Regions from separate parts of the Homo sapiens genome. Here regions 2, 3, 4, 5, 6 and 7 are each linked to region 1. The links come from fine-mapping of genetic effects on gene expression. A gene starts in region 1. Each other region holds a variant in brackets. All regions are shown on one strand. Distances are from middle to middle.

The links. PIP is the estimated chance that this variant, and not a neighbour inherited with it, causes the effect.
Region 2: its variant is the best candidate, but not a certain one, in a credible set for the expression of WDR27 in lung (GTEx, PIP 0.82).
Region 3: its variant is the best candidate, but not a certain one, in a credible set for the expression of WDR27 in whole blood (TOPMed, PIP 0.61).
Region 4: its variant is the best candidate, but not a certain one, in a credible set for the expression of WDR27 in whole blood (TOPMed, PIP 0.59).
Region 5: its variant is the best candidate, but not a certain one, in a credible set for the expression of WDR27 in liver (GTEx, PIP 0.73).
Region 6: its variant is the best candidate, but not a certain one, in a credible set for the expression of WDR27 in whole blood (INTERVAL, PIP 0.57).
Region 7: its variant is the best candidate, but not a certain one, in a credible set for the expression of WDR27 in unexposed skin (GTEx, PIP 0.78).

What each region holds. Positions count from the first base shown.
Region 1 is chr6:169,700,403-169,704,402 of GRCh38, reverse strand. It overlaps WDR27 (WD repeat domain 27), which reads left to right and starts at 2,374. Exons shown (of 26, transcript NM_182552.5): 1 at 2,374-2,852. It overlaps C6orf120 (chromosome 6 open reading frame 120), which reads right to left and starts at 2,277. Exons shown (of 1, transcript NM_001029863.3): 1 at 1-2,277. The coding sequence starts at 1,943. The coding sequence ends at 1,368. PHF10 (PHD finger protein 10) reads left to right here. Exons shown (of 12, transcript NM_018288.4): 12 at 315-501. The coding sequence ends at 400. RefSeq lists a silencer at 1,911-2,280 and enhancers at 2,331-2,420, 2,741-2,820.
Region 2 is chr6:169,505,775-169,509,774 of GRCh38, reverse strand. The region is part of intron 25 of WDR27 (WD repeat domain 27); the gene reads left to right. Among named protein-coding and RNA genes, the nearest start is that of LINC02519, 120 kb to the right of the region's middle. The variant G/A (reference allele first, on the strand shown) is at 2,202.
Region 3 is chr6:169,658,796-169,662,795 of GRCh38, reverse strand. WDR27 (WD repeat domain 27) reads left to right here. Exons shown (of 26, transcript NM_182552.5): 9 at 372-492; 10 at 2,030-2,133; 11 at 3,278-3,345; 12 at 3,589-3,710. Among named protein-coding and RNA genes, the nearest start is that of WDR27, 41 kb to the left of the region's middle. RefSeq lists an enhancer at 1,378-1,877. The variant G/A (reference allele first, on the strand shown) is at 1,723.
Region 4 is chr6:169,564,715-169,568,714 of GRCh38, reverse strand. All of the region lies in intron 25 of WDR27 (WD repeat domain 27), which reads left to right. Among named protein-coding and RNA genes, the nearest start is that of WDR27, 140 kb to the left of the region's middle. The variant T/G (reference allele first, on the strand shown) is at 2,337.
Region 5 is chr6:168,950,950-168,954,949 of GRCh38, reverse strand. It overlaps LOC105378146 (a long non-coding RNA gene), which reads left to right. Exons shown (of 4, transcript NR_136250.1): 3 at 1,711-1,849. Among named protein-coding and RNA genes, the nearest start is that of LINC01615, 210 kb to the left of the region's middle. RefSeq lists an enhancer at 3,975-4,000. The variant G/A (reference allele first, on the strand shown) is at 1,555.
Region 6 is chr6:169,605,442-169,609,441 of GRCh38, reverse strand. The region is part of intron 22 of WDR27 (WD repeat domain 27); the gene reads left to right. Among named protein-coding and RNA genes, the nearest start is that of WDR27, 95 kb to the left of the region's middle. The variant A/GTA (reference allele first, on the strand shown) is at 2,049.
Region 7 is chr6:169,340,981-169,344,980 of GRCh38, reverse strand. It overlaps LOC105378148, which reads left to right and starts at 468. Exons shown (of 4, transcript XM_017011621.2): 1 at 468-722; 2 at 3,942-4,000. The variant C/T (reference allele first, on the strand shown) is at 2,190.

The DNA.
Region 1 (4,000 bases):
AATGGGTTTTGACCTTTTGAAGTATGATAGTGTTTGAATTTCAGGAAAGATTGTACTTTCTTAAAGGTCCGTATCACCGTATGGCATTGCATCTCTCCCATCCCCCTTGACTTGCAATGAATTTTGCATGGCATTGATTACATTGATTAAGTTTACATTTTTTCCTTAAATTAAGGAACTCATAGTGCCCTTCTCACCACAAAATCCAGAGAGGAATATCATTAGTGATAGCTAAGGCAGAAGAGTTTAGATGGGCTTAAAATTCAGTCCTGTAAAGATAATTTTTCATTCTATATTAACAATTTTTTTCCTAGGTCGCTGGATTTGTGACTGTTGTCAGCGGGCCCCCCCAACACCCAGGAAAGTGGGCAGAAGGGGGAAAAACAGCAAAGAGGGATAAAATAGTTTTTGACTCTAATACTGTATATGCATTTAAGTGGAATATTTGGTGCCATTTACAACATTATTTTCATGCCAATAAAAGATTTTTTTTGCAAATTATGAGCTTAAAATCTGCAGTTATTTCTGTTAAAAGCTACGCTTACTCTCGAAACTAACTCCAGGTAGAGAATTCATCTTCCAAAGTATTTTATAGTAACCTTGGCTCACTCCAAAAATTCAGTGGAAATGTTTAGTAACTTAAGATACTTAACTGTTTCTCCATAGCCCCAAAAGTTAATTTTCATGAAACTTCCTAATCTACATTGTTTCCGGCCTACCATAGGTAGCACTGACAAAGTTATTTAATAACTGAAGAATTTTCATAGGTATGACAAATGGCCCACTAAGATTTGGTGCAGCTGGATTTAGAGTTGTCATTATTGGACTGGTACAGGAACAAACTTTGTAAATACCTGCCTGCCAGGAAATCCTTTTTGTATAGAAAAGTACCATCACCTACTTGGGGTACAGGCATGAGGCTTTAGTCCAGGCTCAGGGAAGTGTACGTAAATCATTTCCAACTTGATTTTAGTAACTCTTGAAAACTTACACCAACTTCGGTTAGAATCTCCAGAGTAAAATTACAAAGTTATCAACCTTTTGATTTGTGTCACAGCATGAAAGGTTGCTCTATTTTATATAAACCTGTTACTGCAATCATTTTTAGTCAACCTGCCTAATGAAAATGGAGTCTAAACACTTTGTGCACAGTCCTTTTATAGGAATTATGATCTTTAAAATACTGTGCTTGCTGCTTTTCCTATTTTTGGGGTAACTGAGGTAACAAAACTGCGTATGGCTTTATTTTTCCATCCCTTGACTAAAGGTACCTAGAACTTCAACCAAGTACAAGTAGCAAGGTTCACAGCAAACTGCAATCAGCTTCACAGATGGAGGGTTTTATATCCCAGAGTGTGGTCAACGACTCAAAAGAGAATTTCAAGTACCAGTTTCAAAATGCTAATTAATATCGTCCAGAGAACAGATTCCTCCTCTTGCGAGGCGTCTTCCGGGGCACCAGCGTGCTTCTGGCCGGCATCTGCGCCGTCGGCGGGGTAGGCGGCCTCGCCGAACGGGTGCTGCTCGACCGTGCCGTCGTAGTACACCTTCATCTCGAACTCGCTCTCCAGGTGGGAGGGGTGTCCATAGACGCCGATGCCCACTGGGCGCCGGAAGTGCGCGGGGATGGACACGGCGTCCGGGCCGCAGGTGGCCGATTGCAGCTCGTAGTCGTCGAAGCTGGGGTGCAGGCTGCTGGCGGAGACGTACAGATCCGCATCTCCCTTGAGGCTGCGCATCCTGAGGACTATCTTGCCCTCGTGGTTCAGCCGCAGGTAGCTGTAGTTCCCGGCGCCTATCTGGCCCTGGACGACGTGCAGGAGCACCCACTCCTCGGGGACCTCCTCCTCGTCCGCGCAGCTTCCCGGAGACAGGACCTGCGAGGCTAGGAGCAGCAGCAGGGCCGTCGTCCAGGGCGCGGCCCTCCCGCGGGGAGCGGCCATGGCTGGCGGCTCAGCTCCGGGGCCTGCAAGTGGGTCAGTGCTGCTGGGGACACCGGAGGCGCTCAGCACCGGAGCCTGTCCCCGCCGTCCGCACGCGGGTCCACGGCGCGTCCAGGCGCCTGGTCTGTCGCTGGGACTGTCCCTTCCCACCCGCGTGAGGCCCCGGGGAGGAGGGGTGGGTTAACCCCTCCCCCGTAGCGCGGCGCCCACTCAGGGCAGGGGCAGGGGCAGGGGCAGGGCCGCTGTGGCACCCTCGGACTCACCACCACTCCCCGCAGGGGGCCGCGCTTTATACATCCGGACCCGAGGCCGGAGCCTCGCCGGAGGCGGAAGTGACGCTAGGTCCGTAAGTGAGCCGGCCGGAAGCGAGGCTTCTCCAGCTGTCGCGAGATAGCGAAAGGGGCGTGGGCGCGAGGGGCGGCGGGCTAGTAACCATAGCGGCTCGCGTGGGTCGGCTGGCAAGTAACCATAGCGGCGAGCGTGGGGCGGAGTGTGGCTCGGTAGTCCTCTGCGTGCCCTCCTGGGAGCTGGGTGCTGTGAGTCCTCCCCTAGCGGGCTGGTCTCGGCGCGGAGTCGGCGCCGAACCCGAGCTGCTGCTCTGGGGCGTGTGCCTAGGGCGCAGGGCTGGAGCGCGGGGGCTGCGCGGTTGCTCGCGGCTCCGCTGAGGTCTCTAGGAAAGGGGGCGATTTGAGGGTTCCGCCGTGACCGCTTCCAACGGCGGACACGCGCGCTCTGGACCAGAGCCGTTGCCCGCTGTCTCGTCACCCGAAGCCTCCTCCTGACGCCGTGCTAGTGCGAGGGTCTCCAGGGGAATTCGGGGCACAAGTCGGGCCGGAGCATCCGGGCGGCCGCTTGAGATCGGCGCTTTGAGAACTGAGCGCATGTGGAGTTCGGAGGAAAAGGGCTCAGGTGGTTATTTTAATTAAAGCAGCTGTGTATAAGGAGCACTCAGATCTCTTTAAAAGATTCAGTAGTTTAGGAACGAACCAGGGCTGTAGAAATGCCCGGCCTCCTGCACCTCCCGTCGGTTCTGAGCTCCGAGGGCGGGAGCGTGGACCCTGAGGGCTCGTTAATTATGCCCCACTGGCCTTTCAACCTGCGTGGTAACTACCAGGCTAGGTTTTCCTAACTCGAGCCAAACAGCAAGTTTCTGACTTGATTATCACTAAAAGAGAAAAATTTCGATCTTTTCTAATCAGAAGGGAGTAATTTTCTCTTTTTAAAAATATTCGTATGTACATTAAAAAAACGGAAATGCACAGGATTTTATCAGTGGTACTCCTCGAGTAGTAGAGTTTTCATCTTTTTATGTATTTCTAAATTTTCTACAATTTACACACACTGCTCTGTACCAGTAAAGGAGTATTAACTCTACAGCTTCCAGTTTATCTGGGATTACTATCTTGTGTTTACTGACTTAACTTTAAGACTATGGTATCTTTAGCAATCACTTGTCACTGCCTTTTCCTGAAGTGCTTACCTAGTGTTAGGTGCACTAGAATCTCACTAAAATAATAAATTTAGTTTATTTTCCCTGACTTGTTCTGTGCATGTATGTACATGGATATTCCTGGGGATATCCTGTGACATTGATTATCCCCTAGGGTTGGCACAGCAGGGAGAGGAGGTAGGGATAAAAAACTTTATTATTTCTGCATTGTTTAAATGTTTTGTATTGTATTGCTTTTGTAATTCAAAAAAATGTTAAACAATTTATATTAGTGGAGGTAGGTTAAGTGCTGTAGCAATTCACCCCAATAGAACAGTTGCATGTTTCTTGCTCACACAGTCCTGTGTAGCGGTTTCTAGTCAGACGATTCCTTTGGGCAGCTCTCTGCAAGCTGCAGCCTAAAATTCTTCCATGTTGTGGTTTTTTTCCTTAGGCCCTCTGAATTCTCCGCATTTAGCCAGTGGGTGGGGAAAGAAGAGAGGCAGTGCAGGAGGAATTTATGGGCCAGGCACTCAACGACTACATGGCTGCACTTAATTGCAAGGGAAGCTAGGGAGTGTAGTTTAGTTCTGTGTCTAGAAGGAAAGGGAAGTGGCTTAGTGGAAAA
Region 2 (4,000 bases), 190 kb after region 1:
TCAATTTTGGCTTTTGTTGCCACTGCTTTTGGTGTTTTAGACATGAAGTCCTTGCCCATGCCTATGTCCTGAATGGTATTGCCTAGGTTTTCTTCTAGGGTTTTTATGGTTTTAGGTCTAACATGTAAGTCTTTAATCCATCTTGAATTAATTTTTGTATAAGGTGTAAGGAAGGGATCCAGTTTCAGCTTTCTACATATGGCTAGCCAGTTTTCCCAGCACCATTTATTAAATAGGGAATCCTTTCCCCATTGCTTGTTTTTGTCAGGTTTGTCAAAGATCAGATAGTTGTAGATATGCGGCATTATTTCTGAGGGCTCTGTTCTGTTCCATTGGTCTATATCTCTGTTTTCGTACCAGTACCATGCTGTTTTGGTTACTGTAGCCTTGTAGTATAGTTTGAAGTCAGGTAGCGTGATGCCTTCAGCTTTGTTCTTTTGGCTTAGGATTGACTTGGCAATGCGGGCTCTTTTTTGGTTCCATATGAACTTTAAAATAGTTTTTTCCAATTCTGTGAAGAAAGTCATTGGTAGCTTGATGGGGATGGCATTGAATCTATAAATTACGTTGGGCAGTGTGGCCATTTTCACGATATTGGTTCTTCCTACCCGTGAGCATGGAATGTTCTTCCATTTGTTTGTATCCTCTTTTATTTCATTGAGCAGTGGTTTGTAGTTCTCCTTGAAGAAGTCCTTCACATCCCTTATAAGTTGGATTCCTAGGTATTTTATTCTCATTGAAGCAATTGTGAATGGGAGTTCACTCATGATTTGGAAAATTTTGTCTTCATCCTGAGCTCAACAACAACGATAAAACCTGACTGCTATGGAGCCATGTGGCTGCTGTGTGGAGGGCAGCTCAGGACATGTAGCTTCCGTTTCTGACAAAACTTTAAGGATGAAAGTTAAATATACCAGAGTGAATAAAGTCCATCATTTATGCTACTGGTTTAATAACGTGATAGATTCAAATATTTTCTACAAAGTATCTACTGATAATATAATACATAATTATAAGTTTTAAACACTTTACATTTCCACAAGTGTTGTAAAGTTGTTTAAGCCTTTTCTCCTCATATTTCTTGATGTGTTTTACCACCTGCAGTTGTAACACATCTTAGCAGATTCCACTTCAGATTGTACTGAATCTTTGTCTTCCCAAATCCTTTCAGAATATTCTTGTGTGCAATTGTTCCATGCAGACAATTCATAGAGACTAATTTTCAGTCACTTTAGACTATTCACTCTTAAACAACAACTAAGTAGTACAGTAACATTTGTTGAGTCATTGAGTGAAAAAAAAAGAAATTAAAAATAATTTGCCCTCAACTCTTGAACATCTCTTCTAGCCAAAAACCTAACAGTCTCAGATGAGCTTATTTGCTCTGATGCATTTCTCTGGCTGCTGCAATCAACCATGATTTAATCAACTAATAATTGGTGTATGGCTTTCCTCATTTGGCTAACAAGCCATTCAGAAAGTTACTTTGCTTGTAGCTTGATTTTAATGTATTTTTATTTTTTGAATAAATTCTCTGTGTTGAGATGTTCTGTTTTAAGTTTTTTTGTTTTTCTGATCACTGCTGTCCTGTGAGTTGGGCCGATTTTATGTGAGCCTGGTCTGGTCATATAGATGCTTCTGGAGTCCTTTCAGCTCCACTGGAGTGCACAGCATATGAAACACAATGCTCTGCCATTCATCTGTATAAAAATAATCCACACTCTGCTGTGCCCTAAAAGCATGGCAGTTGAGGTCCACTTTTCTCTTCGTGTTTTGACATGATGGGTATACTATGAAGATTTAAAATAAACCATTCATAGTACAGAAGTACATGCAGCAGTTGGAAGGTCAGTTTATAAGGGCATTGCTGTGACCTGTAGAGTGGCTAGCACAGTTGTGAAGCTGTGAGAGTGCCACATGTGGTCTCCATCACAGCCACTCCACTTCACCATGTGTCAAGAAAGCCACAGACAATATGTACTCAAGAGGATGTGTCTGTGTACCAATAAAACTTTATTTATGAACATTGAAAAATATTCTTTAGTGTTTTCAACCATTTCAAAATATAAACATTATTCTTATCTACTGGATATGCAGAAACAGGCAATGAGCAGGTCTGTTTCATGAGCCATAGTTTGCTGAAAACTTTCCTGAAAGTTACAGGGAAGGCTGGTGGGGTTTGCTATTAGCAGACAAGAAGC[G/A]TAGAATTTCTGTCCTGGGTGAGGGATCTAGGAGCTCCAACCTGTCAACCATGCTTCTGGCTGATATGCTCCAGGTTACAATATGTCTTCACTCAGTTGAAAGGATGAAAGCTCTCAGTGAGCCCCGTCAAGATGGAGTAGTGTCATGGGTAGTTACACTGAGAACATCTATGAAGCAGAGCGTGCCCAGCCGTGTGCCCAGAACCACTGTGGGTGTGTACCTGCAAGTGAATTGATGTTCCTTCCCCAGTCAAAACAATCTTACACACGTGCTGCTTCTTTCTTTCCCCACCTCAAACTCCTTTCAATAAGTCAGGTCAAAAAGGACAGGAAAGGGGGAAAAAAGGCAGCTTATAGATGCCACATGTCCACATTTGTGCTTACCTTATTCTCAACCAAACTTGTTAGGAAACAAAGTTGGAAACACAAAGTAGAATTTGGAAAATCAAATCTGAAATGGAAAGAATAGTGTTTTTTAGGACTCAAAATATTTTATTTCTAAAACATTACACAATTGAAAGTAATGTTTAATCAGATTTCATTTTATGCCATTAGAATGTCAAGTGTTGTTTGGATTAAATTCTAATCCTTATATAGATGCATCTAAATGCAGTTAATATGCTACATAATAAGGTAGTTTAAAGTCCATATCATTTAGCATTTAATAAAGGTACACATTCAGTTATACCAAATTAATGAATGGATTCCTAATCAAAGCAGAAGAACACATATGGAAGTTGTCCAACAACCAAGCCACATGTGGAAATATCTGTTTCTCTGTTGATGTGTCCCAAGTTATAACTAACACATCTCTGGTCCATGTTATTCTTGTTCACCTTTGATTGCAGTACAATCTATTTTTCCAAAGTACTATATATTTACTGCAAAGGACACACAGTTTTTGAGGATATAAATGTAGGTGTACAGCTAATCTGTAATGACCATGTTTTTACCCTACTCATGTGCTTCTGTGAATTTGTTGCCGTCTATGGCTTTCTTTCATTCTTGGAATCACCATGTTTCTCTCCTTACTCAATCAAACTTGCTCTTAATTGGGCACAATGTTTTTGTTTCACTGGACTTCCAGACAGTCATTACTAAGGAGGCAAAATTTAGAAATTATAAATCCAGACATTTGAGAAAGTTACTCCATTAAGATTAGCACCAACAACACCCTTGATTTTTTTAATCACTTACCTCAAGTTCTGTCAGCATGTAACAGATTAAAATTTACAGTTGCTCAACATTTGTTAGGTAAGACAGAGTATCTTAATGGCATACGGATTATAATGTATCCTGACCAGTGTCTCCCTGGAAATCTCAAATGAATGTGATGTTTATGCCAATTTTCTCCCATCAAAAGGAAAACAAAAGTAAAATGAAAAATAGGGAAAATTAGTGCTTGGAAATTCTTCAGAGCTTCTAAAGTTGCAGTGTTTAATTTTTAGCTCAGATGAAATACTGCACAATTGTAAATAAATTACAATTCCATTGAAAACAAAGGAAAATGTACAAAAGCAAATGTCTGCTGTAGAGTTAACTTCTGGGAGCTTTGTTTATGAGTTTAAAAGTTTAGGGGGTTTAGGTGGTATATGTGTTTCTGATGATGACACTGACTGAAGTGGTGCATGTGGGCAGCGTGCAGTGTGTCCGAAGTGTGGCCCCCTGGCTAGCAGCTTCAGCATCACTGTGATGTGTTAGACAAGCAGATTCTCAGGTCCCCTGCCCAGTCCTAATGAATCAAAAATCTGGGAGGGTCCAGCACTCAGCATTTTAATAAGCCTTCCAGATGACTGTGA
Region 3 (4,000 bases), 42 kb after region 1:
GCGGTGCACGCGCGTCATGCTGGGTGTTACCTTAGTGCTTTCCTTGACACGTGATCTGAGTACTCCGCGGTGCACACGCGTCATGCTGGGTGTTACCCTAGTGCTTTCCTCGACACGTGATCCGAATGCTCCGCGGTGCATGCGCGTCATGCTGGGTGTTACCTTAGTGCTTTCCTCGACGCGTGATCCGAGTGACTCCGTGGTGCACACGCGTCATGCTGGGTGTTACCTTAGTGCTTTCCTCGACGCGTGATCCGAGTGACTCCACGGTGCACATTCACTGCAGCATCTCTGTGTGGCAGTCCTCAGCCTTTAAACTTGACGGATGCATTTAAGTTCACTTCTTAGATTCTCAATAATTCTGTCCCTAGAAGAAAGCCAGCTTCCCTCTACAAGTGCTCTGGGAAAAGGAGAGCAGGTTGAAGTAACATTTCCTGTACTGAGACTTGCACCCTGTGATCTCTCACTCATCCCAAATTCTGCATGTGGATGGTAAGTATCAAAAACTTTGCCTATGCCACATAAAGGAAACCTCTTAAATTCCTTAGATGAACATTAGGTTCATTTTCTAAGAATGACTGAGATAAAACCAAATTATTTTGGTCTCTGATTATTAGTAACTTCATTCTTGGGATTGCATGTTTTAAATCTTAAAGTTGGTAAACTTGGGCAATGATACGTAAGTGTCTTTAATAAAAGGAATTGGATGATTTTTAAGTTTATTACCAAAGTCTAGGCAGATCTTTGCCTCTGTGATACAACTTTTTCTTTAGAAAGAGGAAATGGTGATTGGAATGGCCTAGACTTTCCCATCTACCGCTGTGCTATACATTACACATTTAAAGTTAACCCCAGACTAATTTTATTTATTTCTGTGCTCAGTAGAAATATTATTACATATTTGGCAACATAAGGAAGTACTGTTTAACTGTGATTCAAGAATATATTACAATTATGTTTACTTCTCCTCCCCAAAATGCTTGAGATTAGGGGGCAACCTTGCTTTGAATGGCCTTGGCCGTTGCTTGTCTTTGTCTCTGTGCAGAGCTGCCCCTGGAGCAGAATATTCCCTGCTTGGTCCAAACCACAGAGAGTAAGCAGGGTGGGCATGGAGGCTGGACACGGTGCTCCCGGTGGGTGCATGGACCTGAGGCATTTTGAGGCTTCCCTGGCTTACCTCGAGCAGAGGGAGCCCTCAGAGCTAAGCCAGAGCCACATGACCCATTCTGTTGACGATGGTCGTTGGGTGAACCGTGGACTGGTGCTGGTGGATGCCCAGGAGGAGCCCAGGGTGCTGCCTGGGGCGGAGCTGGAGAGGGGAGGTCTGGAAAGCAGGTTCCAGCTGGGGGCCTCTGCCAAGTCCATGTCCAGCCTCCCTGGAGATGGCTTCTCAGTGTATTAACAGACCCCGTTGGCATTGGTATTAACTCTGCCGCCTCGGGCCAGCTACTTTCCTCCTGGAGTTGGTTCCTTATTCACAGAGGTGGGCAGCTTGTGTGGCCTTCAAGTCTAGTCACTCGGAGGCTACCTGAGCAGTGGCCTTGGCCCAGGCACTGGCACTGACCTTTTCTGTAACCTTAGAAGAAAATAGAAACCACAGAGGTCAGAGCGAGCGTCTTCACAGACATTAGCAGGTGCCCAGGGGATCACCACAAATGCGTTGGTGGCACAGATGTGGCCAGCCTGGCACAGATGTGGTTCTCACTGGCAAGAACCTGCCCC[G/A]GCCCACGCTCTCCACTCCTGCGGAGAGCTCACAGCCAGGCCAGGGGGCGCACGTGGGGCCCAACGCCCACGCTCCCCACTCCTGCGGAGAGCTCACAGCCAGGCCAAGGGGCGCACGTGGGGCCCAACGCCCACGCTCCCCACTCCTGCGGAGAGCTCACAGCCAGGCCAGGGGGCGCACGTGGGGCCCAACGCCCACACTCCCCACTCCTGCGGAGAGCTCACAGCCAGGCCAGGGGGCGCACGTGGGGCCCAACCTTCAGGAATAAGATTATTGTGTATTCTTTTCTTTTTTTCCTTAAATCAGTCTTTCTTCTGAGAACACCCGATGTGTGTGGATCGGAAGCTCAGTGGGCTTATTCGTATTTAACCTGGCAAACCTGGAAGTGGAAGCTGCTTTGTATTACAAGGGTAAGATCTTTGATTTCAACGCCATGTAACTGTAATGTTTTCCTTTGACTGGTATGTGGGGTAGTGTAAGTGTTTGTGGAGAAGGCCTTGCCGTGTGAATCTGAGGATGAGATGCTTCAGTCACAACTCAGCATTGAGCACGTGAGCACCTCTGTGCTGCTGGATCCGAAGGACGAGGGCCCTTCCCGGACCCTCGGGCACTCAGCCCTGGAGCCACTCCTTGCCTACATCTGCCAGGCCCTCGCCTGGCACTCCAGGCCGCCCGGGCCCCAGCAGCGTGGAACACCTGCAGGAACACCCTTGGGAAGCCCCTGGATTCTCCACCATCCTTAGAGAGCCTCCCAGAGCCCCAGGCTCGCACAGCGTAAACCCGGCCGAGGCGCACTCCTCTCCAACCCTGGCTCCCTTCCCCAGTTTCTGCCAGCTCCAGAAATGTAGGAATAGTCACCTCCACCCCCACCCCCTCCCCCAAGACCCCCATCTCATCCCCCCACCCCTCCTAACTCCATGGATGCCACCAGCCGCACTCTTTCTGCCCAGGAGCCCAGGCGACTTCTGAAAAGCAGGCTGGATTCCGTCCCTCTCCTCCACTGCAGCAGGGCCTCCTCGGCGGCCTCCCGGGCACTGCTCCTCTCGGTGCCTCCTTTCTAGCCCTGAACGCTCAGACCTCTGTGGGGCTGTGGGATGCATCTGTGTCTTCACACACGCCCTTCCCTTCAGCCGCCCATCCCTGCCCCTCCCCAGCTCAGCCAGGCGCAGCTTCTCCTTGAAAACTCAGCCTTTCCTTCCCCCAAATGGTCACAGCTCTAATTACACATTTCCTTTCTGATCTGGTGCTGGACATGTGGCTTCTCCAGGAGGCTGAGCTGCAGGTCTCAGTCCGAGTCACATCCCAGCCTCAGAGCGGAGCCTGGCATGTGTGACGCTCAGGGCCTGGTGTGTGTGTGGTGTGTGCGCTGGTGTGTGTGTGGCCTGGGGCCTTGTATGTGTGAGGATGTGGTGCACAGCCTGCAAAGTGTGTGGTGGGGCCTGGACTGTGTGTGGTGGGCTCTGGGCTGTGTGTGGTGGGCTCTGGGCAGTGACTCCGTGTGTATGTGCTACCTCCCTCCCCATCATGTTCTTCCTGGTCTTCGCTCAACTGAAGATTTCCAGAGCCTCAGCATCCTGCTGGCCGGATCGTGTGCCCTGAGGAACCGCACTGCGGATCAAAAGGTCAGTCCTGAGACGCGGCCCTCCCTGTCTATGAGACGTGCCTCTGATTTCTTCTTTCTTCAGAGTGATCCTGTAACGACTGGCTGAGTAAACGGGATTTTGTGTGTAAAAACGTTTTAGGAGTGACAGGGCGATGTCGCTGCTATGAGAATGAAGCAGCTGTTAGGATACGTGTGCGGATGCACGTTTCGTCTGCTTTTACTGGGTGGTGTCGCTAACGATGTTGAAACCGCGTCCCTGCAGGTGCTGTGCTTGCTGGCCTCCCTCTTTGGCGGGAAGATTGCCGTGTTGGAGATCAACCCGGCCGCGCTAGTCAGGGCTCAGCAGTGCCCCAGCATGGGGCAGAGCCTCTCGGTGCCAGCCAGGTAGAGTGTCTTCAAGTGTGGAGTGTGTGTGTGTGTTCACCAATAAGTGCCATCTGGATTTCTATGTTCAGAAATAAAGATTAGAAAACTCTGAGCTCTGGCCGGGCGCGGTGGCTCACGCCTATAATCCCAGCACTTTGGGAGGCCGAGGCGGGTGGATCACGAGGTCAGGAGATCGAGACCATCCTGGCTAACATGGTGAAACCCCATCTCTACTAAAAAATACAAAAAACAATTAGCCAGGCATGGTGGCAGGCGCCTGTAGTCCCAGCTAGTCGGGAGGCTGAGGC
Region 4 (4,000 bases), 140 kb after region 1:
CCATCCGTTTCCATCTGTCCTTCAAGAATATGTAGGATTGGAAAGTTGGGTCTTCCCTGTTTGTCAACCAATTAGCTTAATTTTATTTTCTTTGAAAAGAGAAAGTGAGCATTTTAGGGTTTATGTTCTCTTCTTCAGCATTTTGAGAATTTGTTTTCAACTGGGTCTTCTACATCATCCACTTTATTTCCCACAGCTGCAGGTCCCTACTGAGCTTAGTGACTTGAAGTAGTGAGTGCAGTGACTTGAAGAGTGAGCTTGTGTCCTTACTCCCTGGGCATGGCTGTCTCATTTCAGCTGTGCCTTTCCTGTTGGCTCCTACAGATTCTTGCTTATTTTTCATGGAAGACATGTACTAGATGTGGAGCAAGTATGTTATAAGAAATGTTTTTTTTCCTTCAGAAGTGGTTTTCAGTGTTTTTTTACTTTGAAACCCTTTGTCCAAATGGAACCTTGCACAATCATGGGGGCTTTCTGGCTGGGTGGTGGCAGAGCCTGGGACTCACCTTCTGCCTCTTTCTCCTTCAGTCTGTGGTTCCTGAGTGTGGTTCCTGAGTGATTGCTGTCAGACTCAGGCTTCCACGGACCTGTTTGAGAACCACTGGTCTCCCCAAGCCCTGCTGAGGGAGACGCTCTTCCTGGTGGAGCTGACGCTCCCTCTCCTTTACAGTGCGGTTTCGGCAGCTCCCTTGGGTCTCTGTTTACTCATCCTGGAACACAGATGCTGCTTTTCTGCGCTGTGTTCTCAGCACTGGAGCTGGCGGCCCTTCCTCCCAGCTTTACGTCTGCAGAGTGGCTGGGGTACAAGGGCCAGCCTCTCTAGGAACACAGTGGACCGCCGCTCTCACTCCTCTTCTGTGGGATTCCGACTTTATTCTCAGAGTTGCAGCTTCCAAGTTGGTGTGGAAAGAGAGGTGCAGGTCCTGGGAGCATCCTAAAAAGCAGGACTCGCAGCCCTGGGTTTTGCCTCTTCTAAGACAGGAATCCGCTGTGGGGCTGAAGGGGTTGGAGAGAGCTTCCAAAATTTCTTCCCGGCAGTACAGTTTTATTGTTTCAGAGCGTGGCACAGGTGTGGGCCACACTGTGTTTCTCAGCACGCCGCCTTCAGTCTTGCTTGTGGTTATTGGAAGCACCTCCTAGGCTCTTGCACTAGAGCGTCTGCGCCTGGTGCTGTGTGTGAAGTTCTCATCTTTTGCTGTTGGGGAGCGTCAGGGAGCCCCCCAGGAGTTCCTGCCCTGGCTTCATTTAGCCAGGAAGTCTCTATAAGAAGCCAAGCTACTTAGAACTTGAGGACATCTTACTGGGAATTTCACACTGGCCAGAAAGTGATACTCCTAAACTAGTCAGTTCCACAACAGGCACATGCACTGTTCTGCCACGCAGACCGTCTGTGAGGGTGCCCTTCTCTGTAACTGCGCCAACCTGGACTCCTCACACCTGCAGGGAAGGGCCCCGTTCAAATGGTGTTTATCACGGACAAAGCCAAAGTGTGCGTGACTGACCTACATGATGCCAGATGTGTGGCATCCCGGGTCCTCCCCAGCAGCACCGATCACCCCAGGTGTCACTGTCACAGCCCAAAGTGCCTGACTCATTTCCAAAGGTCCCCCAGACAGCCCCACCTGGCTCGGGCTGCTGCCTATCAGACTCTGGGGCACGCAGACATCGTTGTTGGCCTGCTTGGTGCCTGAGGCTCTCAGGCATTGCCCAGCACTTGAGGTGTCTCTATGTGGGATGCCTCCCCTCTGCCCTGGCCTATTATGCATTTTTAATAAATGGAGCCAAGTAGAGTAAATATTAATTTTGTTTTTACAGTTGAGTTCCCAGTTTCAGTGTCCACACTTGTTATCCACTGTCTCAAATGCACATCTGTGCATGTTCTTAGTCAAGCACAGACTATGGCTGATTTTGTTACCAAATTCAGTCCTGATACTGTCCGAATCCCCCACACTGGAATCTGATTATCCTTTTTAGAAAGCGTTTCTACAGGATGTATGCGTGGCAGCCTCGCAACACCCAGGGTGAGAGTGAGTGCTCCAGTAGTCTCTAACGTTGCCTCAACTCCAACAGGCCCCGAAATTCAGGTTCCTTGGCTATTTGTTTTAAACAATACAAAAATACTCAGTACATGCCCATCTTAATAAATGACAGAACAGTGAGAACCAATTAATGGTCATCGTCAAAATATTTATGTCATTTCTCATCACGTGACATAGTTTGAGTTGTCATTTTGTTTCTCATCCCGTGACGTGGTTTGAGAGTCTCTTCGAGGCCCCCGGGACAGTGGCCACTCTCAGGGTCTGTGGCAGGTGCTGGAGGGCCGGCCCCTCTGTGGG[T/G]TGGGGGCTCCCTGCCAGGAGCAAGGGCTGTCAGACCACCTTGCCCTCACCACTGCCCAGGTGAGCAGGGCTGCTGTCTAGCCACAAGCTTTCTTCCCTGCTGTCACTCTCAGAATTGACTTGAGGAATTTTAGAAATCAGAATCAGAGCTTTGTCTAGTGGTGCTATTGTTTACGCTACAAAATGTTTTATTTCTTACATAATTGATCTGGTTTCTTCTAACGAGTAACAATACATTACAAAATGTTTTATTTCTTACATAATTGATCTGGTTCCTTCTAACGAGTAACAATACATTACAAAATGTTTTATTTCTTACATAATTGATCTGGTTTCTTCTAATGAATAACAACAGACAAAACTGAGCTATTGAAGACACATTGATCATAAAAGTCAAAGCTGAGCTCATAATTATCAGTTAATTAAAAAATGGGGCTATAGGTGCAGTGGCTCACGCCTGTAATCCCAACACTTTGGGAAGCTGAGGCAGGAGGATCGTTTGAGCCCAGGAGAGCAGTCTGGGCAACATCGTGAGACCTGATTTCTACAAAAATGAAAAATCAGCTGCGTGTGGTGGCTCATGCCTGTAGTCCCAGCTACGCGGGAGCCTGGGAGGTCGATGCTGCAAGTGAGCCAGGATTGGACCACTGCACTCCAGCCTGGGCAACAGAGCGAGACCCTATCCCTAAAAACAGAATAATTTTAAAAATGTTACTTGGTTTACAAAACTTGTTCTTTAACATTGACTCTTTAGGAACAGATTAAGTAAAGGAAATGAAGTGGCTTGTGTGCATGCTCGAACCCTTCCAGCATCTGTGTGATTATGAACACACATTGTGAACGGGACACTCAGTTTCTCCACTGCGTAAGACAAGCGGGGAAATACAGATTTCCAATACCTGGTGGGGGTGTTTTTAGGGGATGAGACTTCAGGGTCCCTTTGAAATATTAAATGGATCCCAGATGCGGGGCAGTGTTCCGCCTTATCTGAAATACAGTCTGGATTTCCTTAGATGTTTCTAATTTAGAATATTATGTAGAACTGCATATTAAAATTTAGTCTTCTGGTGAGTGACTAAAGTTTAATCTTGGTATAAAATTTTGCCCCCCAAAAATTAGGCTTTGCATTTGGAAACTGGCCTTCAGTCTCGGCAGAAGCACACACAACAACGTTAGCAGTTTGTTCACTGGGAAGGGAGTACTAGGTATCTCTTGATTCGCAGTTTCTATCCCGTGCTGGTCAGAACACATCTCCCGCCGTGTAAGCAAGGTGGCGGGACTGCACTCCCAGGCCGGGAGGCTTCTGAGGCTTGGCTAGACTGGGCTCAGCTCGGCGAGGCTTCAGGCTGGTGGAAGGGAGTGCTCGCTGACAGCGTACCTGGTGGGGGTCTCCCCGGCTCTCGTGTGCTGGTCCCTGGCATGGTCACTTAACTCCCGACCCGTTCTGCACCTGTGGTTGCGTGTGGGGTCCACATGGGTGTTGGCATGAGGACGCGGGCGTTCATTACTTCACTCACTCACGCGTTTGGTTACCTGAGGCACATCAAGGGCTAGCTGACGGAATGGGGGCAGGGCCAGAAAACTGGGCTGGGAGATGGGAGCCATGGAGCGTTCCAGTGCTAGAAGAGAAGTCAGGGCCACTCCCAGGGCAGATGGGTGAGCCT
Region 5 (4,000 bases), 750 kb after region 1:
GTGAGATCATTCAATTGTTTTCTTTCTGTGTCTGGGTTATTTCACATAGAATCATGTCCTCCAGGCCCAGCCATGTTGTGCAAATGACATTTTTTTTAAAATTCAAATTCCAAATGTTCATTATTACAGGTAGAAACATTTTTAATTTTCATGTAAGTTGTTTCCTTTTGGGCATAGAGATGTTTGTAATATTACTGATTTTAGGTGTTTCCTGATTTCTATTACAAGCACTTAGTACTCTACATTTCCCTCAAAGCACTGCTTAGCTGCATCCTGATAATTTTGATATATTGTATTTTAATTTTTGATTCAAAATATTTTTAGTTTAGTGTAAGACTTCAGTTTTGACCCATCATTCATTTAGAAGTGTGTTGTTTATTTGCCATATATTCAGAGATTTTCCAGATATATTTTTGTTTATTTTCAGTTAATTTCATTATGGTTTCAGAACATACTTTGCTTGTTTTCTACTCTTTTTTCATGTTTAAGGTTTAGTCTATGGCACAGACTATCAGCTATCTTGGGAAATATTTCAATTTAAAGATATACTTTGCTGCTGTCTGGAGGAATTTTCTATAAATGCCAATAATAATTAGTTAATAGCATTTATGGAATAAAAATAGGACATAAGATTAGTGATCTTCTGTTTGGCAAAGTTTTCTTAAAGAGGACACAAGAAATTATACATTATAAATTTAAAAAAATGAAAATTATAATCTTTTATTCTTCAAAAGACATCATTAAAATTATTTAATAGACTGAAAGGAAGTATTTGCAAAATAAATATCTGAAAAAGAGCTTTTGTTCTGAATATATAAATAATTTATAACACAATGGTAAGAAAACAAACAACTCAGTACATTTGTGGACTGAGTTGGACAAATATTTTAATGGATATTTCAACAACAACAACAACAAGAAGAAAAGATGCACAAATGGCAAATCAGCAACGGAAAAGATGCTCAACAGTACTAGTCTTTAGGGAAAAGGAGGTTAAAACCATAAGAGCAATACCATTGCACTCGTGTGAGAATATCTAATATTTAAAAGTATGACCATAGCAAACGCTGGTGAGGATGCAGAGCAATTTCAACTCTTATACACTTCGGCTGAGAATGTAAACCGTTTTGGAAAACAGTGTGGTCAATTTATAAAACATTAAACATTCACCTACCATATGACTCAGATATTCTACTCCTAGAATTAATACATTTGAGACCCAAATTTTTGGATACAAATGCTCATATCATTTTTTATTTTTAATATAAAAATAATATATTAAATAATATATTAAATATATATATTAAATAATATAGAAAATAATATAAATGTCTATTAGCAGGTAAATGGGTAGATAAATTGTGCTGTGCTCATGCAACGGGCAACGACTCAGCCATAAAAAGGAACAAACTACTGGGGGACGCAATGAGTGGACGATGCACCCAAAATTGTCAGGTGAAATTAAAGCAGCCAGGTTAAAAGTAAGAAAGAGCATGCACTGCAAGACTCCATTTACATGAAATTCTGGAAAATGAAAACCATTTTACAGTGGCA[G/A]AAATCAAACTGACAGTTGCCTCAGGACAGGAACAGAGGGAGGAATGGACACCAAGGAACATGAGGAAGCCTTTTGCTTACAGAAACACATGTTTTCATGGGAAATCAATATGTCACTGTATCAGTATTCATCAATATATGCAACTTATTTTACAGCAATCATACCTCATTAAACATAAGATGAAATAAAGACATTTCAAGTCAGAGAAGAGTTGATCAATTTCCTGCCACAGAATGACATTAAACAGTAAAAGAAGTTTCTTGAGCTGAAAGAAAAGTCCAGAAGATCCTACAGGTAAGCAGAGATCATCAGGAAGGAATGAAGCACACTCCAGAAACTGTGAAAATAAGAAAAACTGTTTAAAACAACAACTGTAAAAATGTAGTGCAAGTTTTATAAGGTGTGCATAAGTAAAATTTTATATTATATTAGTGCAAAATGGAGTTAACTATTGGAAGCTTCTTGTATTTTCAGAGAAATATTAAAATTACTACTTTAAACATTAGCTACTCAAAGATGCTTAGGGTAGCTGCTAAGAGAATAATAAAATAATGTACTAAAATATAATGAAAAAGAAAAATCAGCACATGAAAATACTTGATTTATCTGAAAGGAATTAAGAAAAATGGAACAAAGAAATAAAAACAGACAAGAGAAATAGAATAGTAGGATGGTAGACTTACTTAAACACAATTATTTTAGTAATTAAATGTATAAAACTGAACAATCTAATCAGAAGACAAAGATGGTCTGTATGAAAAACCGAGAACCCAACAATATGAAATTTGCAGGAGGCACATTTTAGATAAAATCATACAGGCAGGCTGAAGATAAATGTCTATAGAGTGGGAGTCATGGACACATTGTGTTTAAGAGGCAGCTGAGGTAGCTATAGCACTACGAGACAGTTGAGTTTAATTAAGGCAAAAATATTCCTAAAGATAAAAGCTACATTTCATAAAAACAGGAAGATACAAAACTCATAATTGTGTGTACGTGCCTAATAACATTGCTACACATGTATAGAAAAAAAAAAGACTTAACTAAGCAGAAGAAGAGAAATATCCAAAAGCATAGTTGAGGATTTTAACACCTGTTTCAGAAGCTGAGAGAATAAACAAACCAAAAAAAAAAAAAAGTATAAAAATAGCCTTTAGGGACACAACTAAATGTTCCTAACTGGTGTATACAGAACACTGCACCCAACAACTGCAGTGTAAACTCTTTATCAAGGGAACAAGGAACATTTACCAAAACAGACTGGACCATAAAACACATCTCAACAAATTAAAAATAAAAAGATAAGTAAAATCACACAAATTATGTTTTCCTGCACAACACAATCACACTGTAACACAACAGAAAGATGACTGAAATAATCACACAAAACACTTCCACGCTGTTACGCATAGGAGCACGATGGATGTTGAAAATGTTTTGAATTGAAAAATAATAAAAAGTGTCGTATCAAAACATGAGGGACGAAGCTAGAGCAGTGCTTAGAGAAAATTGTATAGCTTCAGTTGCATATATTTAATAGGAAGAGTTTTGGAGTAAAGGCTCAGAGCTTCTGCCCCCCGAAACTAGGAAAAGAACTGCAAATTAAACCCAAAGATATAAGGAAGGAAATTATAAACTAAGTTGGAAAACTAAGAATTTTCTGATTTGAGCAGGTGATCGTTTGATTTTTCATTGCTCCAATTAAAAAGCAACCAAAATTCTTTTTTAATAGTTCTAATTAAAAAGCAGCCCAAACTGTTTTTAACTCACACACTTACATGTTCCAGCCATCGTGTTGAGCTTGCAAGAAATATCAAGCACAGTCTATCTGAGGAGTCAAAACGAACCCATTAAACCTTCAATAACAGCACAAGAGAGTAAGGGATACAAGAGTTTCCACAAGGCGACTTTAAAGAAAACGATAAATCCTGTTGTGAACCATCCGACATTGCAGAGGGGGTGTGTGAGCACAGCTGGGCTGGTGAGGGGCGGCTCCCGCCTTGCTTTGCCGGGGCTGCTCTTGGGACACTGAGCGGGTCTGGCTGTGCTGCCATCTGTCCTGTCGGGAACAGGTCTGACACGTCCACCCAAGAACTGTTGGCTTCTTGTCTATTTTTAAAAGCTAAAGCAATTTCTTTGATCTTCCTACCACCACAGCCCTGCTTCGGGATGGGAAAGGTAAAAGTTGCTCTCCCCACTGTAAAGACGAAGAAAGTGGGATGTGGAAAGGTGATAACCCTGCACACAGCACAGTCAGAGTCAAGACTCAGGACAATCTCCCACCCTGCTCCTGTCCCCTTATAGCAATGGTACTTGGAGCTCAGAAGGAGGAGAGGAAGCTGCGGCTTGGAGACCGTTCAGAGGCAGCCGTGGAAAATCCCGGCTTGAGCTGGACTGGGCAGCTGGCGAGTGCCGGGGCAGAAAAGCGCGCAGGCCGGGCCAGTG
Region 6 (4,000 bases), 95 kb after region 1:
GTCAAGCACTGAAGTTTGGGATCCTCTGCCTAGATTTCAGGAGATGTATGGAAGCACCTGGATGCCCACGCAGATGTTTTCTGTAGGGGTGGGGCTCCCTTGGAGAACCTCTGCTAGGGCAGTGCAAAGGGGAATTGTGGGGTCAGAGCCTCCACACAGAGTCCCTAATGGGGCACTGCCTAGTGGAGCTGTGAGAAGAGGGCCACCATCCTCCAGACCCCAGAATGATAGATCCATCTACAGCTTGCACCATGAGCACGGAAAAGCTGCAGACACTCAACACCAGGCTGTGAAAGCAGCTGGGAGGGAGGTTATGCTCCGCAAAGCCACAGGGACAGAGCTGCCCACGACCATGGGAACCCACCTCTTGCATCAGTGTGACCTGGATGTGAGACTTGATGTCAAAGGAGATCATTTTGGAGCTTTAAGATTTGACTGCCGCACTGGATTTCATACTTGAATGGGGCCTCTAGCCCCTTTGTTTTGGCCAGTTTCTCCCATTTGGAATGACTGTATTTACCCAATGCCTGTACCCCCATTGTATCTAGGAAGTAACTAGCTTGCTTTTGATATTACAGGCTCATAGGCAGAAGGGACTTGGCTTGTCCCAGATGAGACTTTGGACTGTGGACTTTTGGGTTAATGCTGAAATGAGTTAAGACTTTGAAGGACTGTTGGGAAGGCATGGTTGGTTTTGAAATGTGAGGACATGAGATTTGGAAGGCCGGGGTGGAATGATATGGTTTGGCTCTGTGTCCCCACCCAAATCTCATCTTGAATTGTACTCCCATAATTCCCATGTGTTGTGGGAGGGACCTGGTTGGAAATAATTGAATCATGTGGGCAGTTTCCCCCATACTGTTCTTGTGGTAGTGAATAAGTCTCATGAGATCCGATGGTTTTATCAGAGGTTTCTTCCTCATTCTGTCTTTGCTTGTTGCCATTCATGTAAGATGGGACTTGCCCCTCCTTGCCTTCCACCATGATTGTGAGGCTTTCCCAGGCATGTGCAACTGTAAGTTTAATTAAACCTCTTTCTTTTGTAAATTGCCCAGTCTAGGGTATGTCTTTATCAGCAGCATTAAAATGGACTAATACATTGGTCGATGGGCACTTAGATTGGTTCCATATCTTTACAATTGTGAATTGTACTGCAATAAACATACACACACAGTGTCTTCGTGATATAATGACTTATTTTCCTTTGGGTAGATACCAAGTAGTGAGACTGCTGGATTGTATGCCAGATCTGCTTTTAGTGCTGTAAGAAATCTACTTTTAGTTCCATGGAAAACAGTATGGAGATTTCATTTTCCTTTTATACCATATATTTACTGTGCCTTTTCTTTGTTTAGGTATATTAATAATTACCATTGTGTTACAGTTGCTTAGTACAGTTGCATGCTATACATGTTTGTAGCCTAGGAGCAATAGGCTACACCACACAGCTTAGGTGTGTAGTAGGCTACACCATCTAGGTATGTGTAAGTACACTCTGTGACATTCACACAGGGACAAAATTGCTTAACGACATATTTCTTGGAATGTATCCCCGGCATTAAGTGATGCATGACTGTGTAGTTAACTCCTGGCATCTTCTTAGTACTCAGCAAACAGCCAACAACATCCATTTTCTAGTGATTATTGCTTATTTATTTTTTATTTGTATATATTTAGGAGGTGCAAGTGTAATTTTGTTACATGGTTAGATTTGTAGTGGTGAAGTCCGGGCTTTTAAGGTATCCATCACTCAAATAATGTGCATTCTGCCCATTAAATAATTTTTCTTCCTGCATCCCCTTCCCACCCTCTACCCTTCTGAGTCTCCAGTGTCTATGGTTTCATACTCTATGTCCATGTGTACACATTATTTATCTGCCACACATAGGTGGGAACATGTGGTATTTGTCGTTCTGTTTCTGAGTTGTTTCACTTAAGATAATGCCCTCTACTTCCATCCATGTGCTGCAAAAGACATGATTTCATTTTTTTCATGGCTGAATAATATTATATTATATGTGTGTGTGTGTGTGTGTGTGTGTGTGTGT[A/GTA]TACACACACAAGTATACTACATTTTCTTTATTCAGTCGCCTGTTAATGGGCACTTAGATTGATTCCATGTCTTTGGTATTATAAACAGTGTTGCAATAAACATATGAGTGCATGTGTCTTTTTGAAATCATGACTTCTTTTTCTTTTGGTAGATACCCAGCAGTGGGGTTTCTGAAATGAACGGTAGTTATATTTTTAGTTCTTTGAGAGATCTTCACATTGTTTTGCGTAGAGGTTGTACTAATTTACATTCCCATCAGCATTGTATAAACTTTCCCTTTTCCCTGCATCCTTGACAGTATCTGTTACTTTTTGCTTTTTTAGTAATAGCCATTCTGACTGGTGTAAGATGAAATCTCATTGTGGTTTTAATTTGCATTTCTCTGATGATTAGTGATGTTGAGCATTTTTCATATGCTTGCTGGCCATTTGTATATCCTCTTTTAAAAGGCTTTTATACTGTTGGTGGGAACGTACATTAGTTCAACCATTGTGGAAGACAATGTGGCATTTACTCAAAGGCCTAGAACCAGAAATATCATTTGACCCAGCAATCCCATTACTGGGTATATACCCAAAGGAATATAAATCATTCTATTATAAAGATACATGCATGCATATGTTCATTGCAGCACTATTCACAATAGCAAACACATGGAATCAACCCAGATGCCCATCAGTGATAGACTGGATAAAGAAAACGTGGTACATATACACCATGGAATACTAGGCAACCATAAAAAGGAATAAGATCATGTTTTTTGCAGGGACATGGATGGAGCTGGAAGCCATTATCCTCAGCAAACTAACACAGGAACATAAAACCAAACACTGCATGTTCTCACTTATAAGTGGGAGCTGAACAATGAGAACACATGGACACAAGGAATGGAACAACACACACTGGGGCCTGTCAGCGGAGTAAGGAGAGGAAGAGGATCAGGATAAATACCTGATGCTTGTGACGCTTAATACCTAGGTGATGGGTTGATCTGTGCAGCAAACCACCATAGCACATGTTACCTATGTTAACAAACCTGCACATCCTGCATATGTATCCTGGAACTTTAAATAAAGTAAAAATGTCTATTCATGTCCTTTGCCCACTTTTTAATGGATTTATTTGTGGTATTTTTTGTTGAGTCGTTTGAGTTCCTTGTAAATTTTGGATGTTAGTCCCCTGTAAAATGCATAGTTTGCAAGTTTTCCCCCATTCTGCAGGTTTTCCATTCACTCTGTTGATTATTTCTTTTGCTGTGCAGAGTATTTTTGTTTAATTAAGTCATATTTGTCTATTTTTATTTTTGTTACCTCTGGTTTTGAGTTCTTAGTCATGAATTCTTTGCCTAGACCAATGTCTGGAAGTGTTTTTTCTAGAATTTCTTCTAGTATTTTTATAGTTTCAGGTTTTACACTTAAGTCTTTAATCCATCTTGAGTTTATTTTTGTGTATGGGGAGAGATAAGGGTCCAATTTCATTCTTTTGCCTATAGCTATCCAATTTTTCAAGCACTATTTATTACAAAGGGTGTCCTTTCCCCATTGTTGATTTTGTCAGCTTTCAAAGATCAGTTGACTGTAAATATGTAGTTTTATTTCTGAGTTCTAGATTCTGTTCCATTGGTCTATATGTCTATTTTTATACCAGTACCATGTTGTTTTGGTTACTATAACCTTGTAGTATAATTTGAAGTCAGGGAAGGTGATGCCTCCAGCTTTGTTCTTTTTATTTAGGATTACTTTGGCCATTTGGGCTCTTTTTTGGTTCCTTATGAAGTTTAGGGTGTTTTTTTTTTTAATGTAAAAAATGACATTGGTATTTTGAAAGGCATTGCATTGTACCTATGGATTGCTTTGGGCAGTATGTTAATTTTAATGATATTAATTCTTCTGATCCATGAGCATAGGACGTTTTCCTATTTGTTTGTATTATCTGTAGTTTCTTTCATTG
Region 7 (4,000 bases), 360 kb after region 1:
TGAATCTGTGTCAAAATTTAGAGACTTGGCTGTGGTTAATCTCTCGCTGCTACTGCAAAGGCCGTAATAACAACCAGCTGAGCGAAGAATGAAGTCCAGACCTGGAAAACAAACAGATCCTCCCTTGGTGAGATCGTGCTGCTGCAGCCACAGCCTGGTGCCGCTGCCCGGGTGTCAGGAATGGGATCAGGGTCAGGGAGTGGGTTGTCTCTGAGGGACCTCCCTGCCCTGCCACCTGGGGACACCTCGCATCATGCATCTACTGCCTAAGTAAGCCTGACATGGTGACAATAAGGGAATCCAAAAGAGTAGAATACAGTTTGCTCTGTGGCTGTCTCCAAGGACCAAAGTAGCAAAAGAATAAAGTCAGTCAAAGTTTAATATTTTAAAGCCAATATATTTCTTAATAAGAATATGAGTGGAAAACAGTGACACAGCCAATACTTCCCCTAAACTGAAATCATTTCTCAACCCAGGAGAAATTTCATCTCAAAAATAACAAATGGATTAAAAATGAATATGAACCACAAGGAACCTTCACCCCCAGGTGAACATTTTAATAGGTTTCCTGACGAATGAAGTGGAAGTTGGCTCACGGTGTGCTCAGCCTCTGAAGCAACTGGATTCAGGCAGAGGCAGGTGAGACTTCCCTCGAGCACCTCCTGCCTCCTGCCCTGCCCAGAGGCTCCGACTGAGGATGTGGCACCTCGTTCCTTAGGCAGGTGTGACTTTGTTTTTATTACAATAATGTATATACAATAAGAACCGTGTATTCCTTTACTGAGAGAAAGAGAGAGCGAGAGAAGATCATAGGGTTGATTCCAAGGGCACGTGTTACAATGCACTCTGCAAACTTCTTAAAATTTATTGGGTTTCTCATCTAAAAATGTTCTCTGTGTTAGCTTCTGTCAATCAAGAAACATGACGAGACAAGTCTCAATCATTTTAGGAGGTGTATTTGCCAAGTTAAGAATGCGCGCCCAGGAGACAGATCTATGCCTTTCTCCAAAGACGATTCTGAGGGCTCCAAATTTAAAGGGGAAAGGGTGAGATAGTCACAATTTTCATGGAAGATGTGGGATAGGGAAAAATAATCATGCCTTTGTCTGGCTCAGTGAATCTGCATTTTTTTTTTTTTAACATAAGACAACGTAGACAGATGGAGCAGAGGAAAAACCTAGGGAATCTGCATTTTACAGAAGATCACAGACAAAATGGGGCAGGGGAACAATCAGATATGCATTTATGTCTGGTGGGCCGGGGGTGAGTGCAGCTATAAAGAGAAGCTGTCAATTTACATTGCCGTGGTGAAATCGTCACAGAAACACCTTAGATTAAAGATCTTGGAGCATACTAGGAATTTCCTTGTGGGCAAAATATGGGAGAGGCATGTAGCTTTTCATCAATTAGGAACCAAAAAGAGGAGGCAGGTTTGCAGCACCCAGTTCTCAGCTTAATTTTTCCCTTTGGCTTAATGAGTTTGGGGTCCCAAGATTTAATTTCCTTTCACACTTTCTAGACCATTGCCCAGACAATCTTTTTTGACCTGTGGTATCTAGCACAGTGAACCCACCTAATCCAAGAATGAAATGTGAATGGCAGCTGTGGAGTTATGCAACTTGGCTGATCCTGAGATTGTGGGTAACAATGATCTTTTCTAAACATGACCTTATGAGGCCCGTGCAGAGGCTTATGTCTGTAATCCCAGCACTTTGAGAGGCTGAGGGGGATGATTGGTTGAGCCCAGGAGTTCGAGACCAGCCTGGGCAACATAGCTAAACCTTGTCTCTACAAAAAATTAGCCAGGCATGGTGGTGCATGCCTGTGGTCCCACCTACTCAGAAGGCTGAGGCAGGGGGATTGCTTGAGCCCAGAAGGTTGAGGCTGCAGTGAGCTGAGATTGCACCACTACACTGGAGTCTGGGCAACAGGGCAAGACCCTGTCTCCAAAAAAAAAAAAAAATAGCCATATGCATATAACCTTCTGCCCCACCCTTACAGCTGTACCACGTGAGTGAGACATGGAAGCTGTTTTATGCCTCTGGGAGTCTTCAGTCTTTTGTTCTCTGAACAATGAGGGCACGATTCGGTTCACCATCTCTGCCCAGCTCCTTAGTCCTGGCTCCTTTCCCTAGGAACAGGCTGGCACAGAGTTCCAACACTCTTCCCAAAATCATATGAGTCAGAAC[C/T]AGGAACCCAGAACCTAGTTTTAATAGAAGCTGATGTAAGCTTCTATAGCAATGCAAACTGATACCTAAGTCAATAGTAAAATATATGTGTTTGCAAGCACCTTCCTTCTTTCTGTGTAATCGAAGGGCTTCCAGCGTCCACCACAGGCTCTTCCTCTGTGGGAGTGTAAACCCTCCAGTGTCCCCAAGGCTGAGTGAGTCCAGTTTATGTCAGTATTAACAGCCCTGGGAAAATAGATGAGTTTGCAGTGTGTGTAAATTGTGGTGTTTAAGTTGGGTGACTCTATAGTTTATCATCGGGAGCGGGGACTGGGATCCTTCTGAGAGTGGCAAGTGGCCGTTCATAATTCCATAGCATCTCAGGCGTGAACCAGGACAGGCCCTGGGAAGGGAGGTGGTGTGGCCATGCTAAGAGTAAGCCTACATATGAACAAAAGCTTGATCTTTGGGTTTCTTCCTTAAACACTGCTCAGATTCCTCTACTACCAGGATGCCTCTGACTAAATATCTCACCCAGTCCAGCCCTCCCAGCTGGGGCCGGCGGGATCTTGTAGGAACTGCAGCGACAGAGGCAGTTAACAGGAAGGTTCACTGAGCAGACAGACAATGGGCTGGACTGAGAAAGGCCTGAAGTGGTTGGAGACTAAGGCGAACTCCAGCCTAGAACGTATCAACCAGACAGTGTGATTCCCTCTTGGACAAGAGCAGTGGGGTTAAGGACGGGGGTCTTGGTCATTGTTAGGGGCTCACCTGCATGGGAAGTGGAGAAGAAACAGTGGGGAAGAGGATGAGACATAGAAGGAGGCAGAGACCTGACGCTGAAGGAGCTTTGCAGCAGGTGAAGTCATCTGGGCAGGACACATGCCAGAATTTGGTGTGGGTGTGACAGGTGGCAGGCTCAGACGGACATCTAAGTCGGGTGAGTGTGGCCAGGGAGAGGGTGCACAGATGGAGCCGGGCAGTATGGCCAGTCTGGAGGCTGCTCAGGGCCCTGGTCACACAGCTCCTTGTTTCATGGGGCCTAAAATATACACAGCTGACCCATGAACAATGCAAGAGTTGGGGTGCTGACTCCCCACACATTTGAAAATCTTCATGTAACTTTGCACCCCCAAGAAAATTAACTACTCATAGCCTACTATTGACCAGAAGCCTCGGGACGACATAAACGATGGACACGTGTTGCTGTTATATGTATTATATACTGCATTCCAAAATAACCTAAGCTACAGTAAAGAACAGGTTATTAAAAAAGTCATAGGGAGGAGAAAACATATTCGCTATTCATTAGGTGGAGTTGGGTCATCATAAAGGTCTCCAAACATTAGAACTTCATAGTTAGCAATTTTAAAAGTTGAAAAGTGTCATGCATTTTTTAAACTTCCTCATGTTTTTAACCAGAAAGGTTTGTGGCCGAAGGTAGCCAGTGGTCGCCCAGAGGAACCTCCTAGGTGATGGATATACCTTCCTGAAATGTCATGGATAATTGGATCTTGAGGGAAAGCGACACCTCTGGGAGACGCTTGCTCCCTGGCCTGGTGGCCTCCCCTCCTCACTGGGCTCTGGCTGCCTCCTTCTGCAATGGGCCGACCTGGGTGGGTGGTTCCGTCCTGCACAAAGGCTGTCTTTGGGGTCCGAGGCTTTCTCTTCTTGTTAGGAGAACTGGCCCTAGCACAACCTGGGTGTAGGAGGATCCTGGCACCTCTGGGAAGGGTGTGGCTCTGATTGCCTGGGGTCTTTCTCTGACACCAGCTTTTCCTGGGCTCCTGTGAAGACCCTGCAGTGGAGAGAAAGCTGGTTCACCAGGAATC